2 separate regions of the Homo sapiens genome follow, and region 1 is linked to region 2. Evidence: fine-mapped expression QTL. A gene starts in region 2. The other region holds a variant in brackets. All regions are shown on one strand. Distances are between the middles of the regions.

Region 1 (2,919 bases), 29 kb after region 2:
TCCTCCAGACAAGAGATGGGGTGAGTCTTCCCTGGGGATCCTGAGCAGCCCAAGAGAGAAGGCTGAATGATATTGACAAGGCACTTCCTCAAGCAAATGGCCAAGGAGTCACCCTCCTGTGAAACTCCCAGGGCACCAGCCCCACTGTGGGCTCACAGCATCCAATTATCTTTAGAATTTTGTTACCCAGGCCTGAGAAAAAGCTCTCAAGTGAAAGAGAAGAAAGAAACTAAACAGAGAATAGTGAAGGCAACTGGGAAGAAACAGAGACCACCTAAGGAACCATAAATAAAAACAGAAAACTTTTTCTCCAAGGGCTGTTTCCAAAACAGAGGGAGGCAGAGAGAGAATGAGAACAACAGAGAAATGGGAGAGAAAAAAAAAGAAAAAGACAACTGATCCAGGAGGTGAATGCTTGAATAAAAGGAGTTCTAGAAAGACAGAACATAGAAAACAGAGAGGGGAAAATCATGCATGAACTAATTCAAGAAATTTTCCTGTGAATTTCTAGATCGAAAAGGCCACTCACTGTGCGGAGCAAAGGGATGGAAATAGACACACTCCAAGGCTCATCCCTGTGACATTCCAGGACACCGAGAACAAAAAGAAAACGCTGATAAAGTGAAGACAACAGATCACATATTGCCATAGTTATCATAATTGCTCCTGACTTTTCAACAACAATAGGAGCAAGAAGGTAACATAGCAATGCCTTCAAAATCCTGAGGACAAATTGTTTCCAACTCAGAATTTTTTATATCAGTCAAACTGTCATGGTAAAACAGGCATTTTTAAATATAAAAGTTGTCAAAATGTATTTTCCATTCCCCCTTTCTCCCGTAGTTACTCAAGGATGGGTTCCACCAGTACAAAGGAGTAAACAAAGATCCAAGAATCAAGAAAACGTTGTAGAGGAGACAAAGAGAAGCCCCAGAAACATGAGGAAGAGACAGCTGTGTACCAACTGGTGGAGGCAGTGCATCCATACAGGGCAAAAAAAGGCTGCAGGCATGACTTTTTAGGAAGATGCTCAACAAAATACTTGCTGAGAAAAAAAAAAACAAAACTTAGAAATGCTGGTTCCAAAACATGTGCTTTTGTTTGTTTGTTTTTTCTTGTTCTGACTTTTAATTCATTACACCACTGCTCTCCAAGAAAAGGCTATCAATTATTCCCTTCCAACAATGCATAAGAATGACTTTTTCCCTACTTCTCCAGGACAGAATATAATTATCATTTATTTTAATCTTTTTTGAACTGTTAAAAAGATAAACTGAGGCACAGTAAAATTTTAAAGAGTTTTGGTGAGTTTTTTTTAGCATGAACAATTTATGAACTGAGCAGCTCCGAACCAGAAATAGTTTGGGAGCTCCACTGAGGAACACAAAGAGGAGACTTTTATAAGACAGACACAGAAGTAAAGCAAAGTATTTAATTGGTTACTGTTATACAATTGCTTTTTTTGGTCTCTCAACTTGGAAAGCCCCTCGTTATCTAAGTTTGTATAAATAGTAACTTCTGATTGGTTGAGCTTAAGTTCTGCTTTTAAAAATATA[T/G]ATATAGATATAGATATATATAGGCATTCACAAGAAATAGCTCAAGTTAAGTTTGGTTATGTTTGCAAATCAAGCAAGGTTTAGGTCACTTACAAATCATAACTTCTTTTGTCCCCTCTGGGATTCTTCAGGTCTGGTCTCCATTTTAATTTACTTTAACAATCCCACCGCGTTGGGTCACCCTCTCAGCAAGCTAAGAAGAAGGTGGTAGCATTCCTCTCAGTTACCACTAGTGAAATAGTCACTGGAACAAAGAGTCATGTAATCTTATCCTCAACAGTTGTATTGGGATATAAGATTACATGGCATCATTACCTGCATCATGGGCTTCAGTGGTAGGGTTGTTGAGTTCTTCAAGTCAATTAATGATGATGGCAATCATTTGATGTGTGAGTGCCTTCTGGAAAGCTTTGAAATCCTTGAGAGGATAAGATATAGTAGGATGGTAAACAAAATGACTACAGAGAGAATAATAGCCAAGGATTTTTAAATTCCCTGGAGCACAGATTCCCAGGAGCCAATATTTCACCAATAAAATAAATCAGTGGAGGAGGCAACACCTGTCTGATAAAAGACATATTTGTTCCTTAAGATCCTTTAAATTGGGCTCAACAATTTCTAATTTATTAATATAGAAACAATATTTTTTTTTACAAATAAGAGCCTCCTTGTTAAGTTGCTAAGGTATCAAGGACTTCTATTTTGGAGTACTATTGAGGTTAAATTGTTTATTTCAGATAGTATTGCTTGAAGGGAATTCAAGGTAGCATTCTATAAAAACAAAAGAAAAAAAAAAGGTTAACATTAGGAACAAATTATGATCTTAGTCTTTAAGTCCAGAGAGCAGCCTGTCAAGATTTCTAAATTTGAGTTTGAAGCATTTTTAGATGATGGAATGAGGATGGCAATTGCAACCTGATGGATTTTCCTGGCTTGCAGTTTGAATGTCTCTGGAAATATCATCAGGTGTTCCAGTGAATTCTCCAAGTGACCCACACAGCAGCAGCATGAAAATTTTCCATACATGGTCTGTTGTAGTAATTTTTCTGAATTTAAAGTCATCCAATTTCAGCTGGCAGGGCTTCGGAAAAAAGCAGTTTTAGTTTCTAGTGAAACTAGAAAATGTTAGGATTCAATCCAATTTACAAGGACATAACAAAGACCAGAATTTGATGATGGGTGCTATAGTTTTCTATTGAAATACAATCTTTTTTATGGTCATTCCAAATTTTTCCAAAAATAATCATGGTTAACTCTTCTTTTTGTGCAAAATCAGTAGTCTCATTAAACTTGATCTGATTATTTACATAAGTGCAACAAGAAAAGTGATTCTATGTATGCATATTTTTAAAATACATCATTT
Region 2 (2,919 bases):
TAAGGGTTTTTAAAGACTATCTTATTTAATCTTTATAAAGTAAAAAGTTGACACCATTATTCTCCCCATTTTATAGATAAGGAAACTGAGGCACAGACAGATTAAGTGATTTGCCCAAAGTCTCACCATAGTTAAGTACTAGAGCCAGGATTCAAACCCAAGGACTCTGGTTCCACCTAAAGCACTGAGCTACATGGTCCAACACAGTCTGATAGGGATTAGAGAAGTCCTGGCCCAAGTGTGAATAAGTATCCAGTTGCAAGGAGCATTGAGGTTAACCCCTAACCTATCCCCACAGGGCACAATGAAATATATACCACTGGTTTTCTCTCACACAGGTACATAACCTTCAGCCCTCTGCCATCTCCCAGTTCTCCTTCAGAAAAACATGAATCAAACACAAGGAAATGCACTTGTCCATGAGGAGCTAACTCCCTTCTGCCCATCTAGATTATCACCCCAGCTCCAAGAAGACCCAGAGCAATGTCTGAGCACAGGCTCTTCAAGGCAGTTGTCCATGACTTTGCTCAAAGTAGAGAGCCCAGGAGGATACCTCTCCCTGATTTTTCATGCCTTCCCAAGGCAAGCCTCGCTTTTAACTCATATTGACACTTTCCTCCTGTTATTCATAAGGATTAGGAGGAGGAGTGAATAAAGCCCGCATGCTTCTGGTTTGGGTGCAGATGTGAGCTGTGCGGATCGTAAGAGGAGACACAAGAAAGAGCTGGGGCATGCGCCGGCTCTGCTGAGCCTCAGCAACTGTGCCCTCCAACCCCAGCGTGCCATGGAGAGCTGGGATGATCACCTCCACCAAAATGAGCACCAGCCTCTTCTGGTCACGTCTGTGTCCTCAGCAGTAGTATATTTGCTGTCCCATAGTAGACCCCTGGGAAATATTTGTTAAATCAATTCTGTCTTTTGGGTTTAACAGATTGTCAACATCAAACACATCATGATGGAATATAAGAAAAAAATTTCAACATCAAATAAACTTATTGTAGATCATGCCATGATGAGATCTACTCTATCATTATTCCCATACTAGGCTTTGCATGTCTCTAACAACATCGACATGCACAGACATCTTTTTTCCCTGACTCTCTCCTTCTTTTACTTTTGTGTGCAGACACTGCATGTTCTCCCAATTCTGGGTAGAGCAGCACGGTCTGCCATAACTACTGGTTGGCTCTATCTTGGATGGCCCTGTGCTCTGAAGCTTCAACAGAAAAGGGCTCCCCGAGATCCTGGACCAAACGCCTCCCCTGCTCAGTCCTCTTCCTTGTCTTACCTGAGACAAAGAGCATCCACAGCAGCCCCCAGAGCCTGGTCTTCCTCATCCTTCCTGTGCACCAGCTCCAACTGCTGCTGAGGGCTCCCGGGACAGCTACAAGGCACCACAATGACCTAGAGGCTTCGGAAAGTTGCACAACAGGATATGAGGCCATTCCTGGGAGTCACTGAGTTTGGGTTCTGTTTCATCACCAGTTGCTCTGACTCCTGACATCAACACAATAATACAGAGACCAAGACTCACTTCTCAGTTAAGTTTCTTTGAACTCCAGTTTTCCTTTCTGTGGTAATAATGACAATTACCTTTCAACCTTACAAAATCTAAGGGAGAATGATACTTGAATGTAAATCAAAGTAAGGCATTCATATTAGGAAGGGGAACAGAGGGCCCTTTGCTCTCCAGAGGCCCCCTCTCCATTCACATCCAGTTTAGTGTAGTGAAGAGAGTCAGGCCCACATAGGGAGAGGCTGCGACAATCGTATCTCATCTTCAGGGTTTTTGTGAGAACATGTTGCTTCATCCTGCCCTGCTCAGCCCCGTGGGTTCTCTTGGCTTCTGGTGACCTGGGGTGCACCTCCTCTTCATCACCAGGAGGGCCACACCCTGCATTTGTCCTTCAGCATTGCCACAGACATGGCCTGGGAGCTCACGGGGGTGTAGGGACCCCAGAAACAATTTGAGAGGACACTGCCACCACCCAACAAGAACAGACTTAGATTTAAAAAGGAAACTTGGTTCAAGACGCTGAAGCAAGAAGAAAAAATCCAGCAGGTTTTGTACTAGAAGCAAGAAAAGACAGATTTGACAGTGTGAAAATCAAATCAATAATGGAGAGGATTCACTTCAGAAATATTCCCAAATGTGAAATGAATAAAGACATTTAGAAGAGCTCAGAAATTTAAGGGAGGACAAATCACAGAATTCCAATCTACAAATCAGAGATGTCCTTAAAGCATAAAATGGAATGGTGGATCACAAGCAAGATTAAAAATTTTATCTTAAAAAATATGCTTTCCAGGTCTGAGAAGAAATCTAAAATTGGAGGTTGAGAGTTCAACATGGGCAAGGAAAAAATTCACAAAGTGAGACCTAGAATAGGAAGTTTCCAGGTGAAAATTTTTAAATTTAAATAAAAAGATTCCTACTGCTAAATAAACAAAAAAATAACTTGGTTTCTTCAAAGGAATTGAAATAATCAGGACTCAGATTTCTTCTCTGAGTAACAAATACCATGAGAGAGTGGGATGAGGTATAAAGAACATTATGACCCTAATATTTTACACCCAAATTGATTGCTACTCAAGTATAGGAACAGCTAAAAGGTACTATCATGTCTGTAAATTAAAACAAACAACAACCAAAAAAATTTTCAAGGCTAACTTTAATTTTTTTTATTAAAGCTGTTCAATGCAGCAATTTATAAAATATAGAAAATAATACATAAACTTAAATCATGTTATTACACTTTATAGAGATCATTTGTAGTGGAGATTTTACTATGTTTATTTTTTGTTCTACAAATAATGTCGGAAAACAGGCTTCAAACATGCTTGAACTGAAATCTGCTGGCCCCTCCTTTTGCTGTACTCAAGCAGTCCCTAAAGAGGAAAAATAGACAGAAAGCTCTT

Alleles and levels. Positions count from the first base shown, and alleles are read on the strand shown. Sizes are in standard deviations (SD) of each study's normalised expression.
In carriers of allele T in region 1, the expression in B cells of the gene that starts at base 1,364 in region 2 tends to be higher than with G alone (large effect, 1.0 SD a copy in Schmiedel 2018).

What was found.
Region 1: its variant is fine-mapped to the expression of TREM1 in B cells (Schmiedel 2018, PIP 0.95).

What each region holds. Positions count from the first base shown.
Region 1 is chr6:41,313,898-41,316,816 of GRCh38, forward strand. No RefSeq gene overlaps it. Among named protein-coding and RNA genes, the nearest start is that of NCR2, 20 kb to the right of the region's middle. The variant T/G (reference allele first, on the strand shown) is at 1,557.
Region 2 is chr6:41,285,319-41,288,237 of GRCh38, forward strand. It overlaps TREM1 (triggering receptor expressed on myeloid cells 1), which reads right to left and starts at 1,364. Exons shown (of 4, transcript NM_018643.5): 1 at 1,289-1,364. The coding sequence starts at 1,337.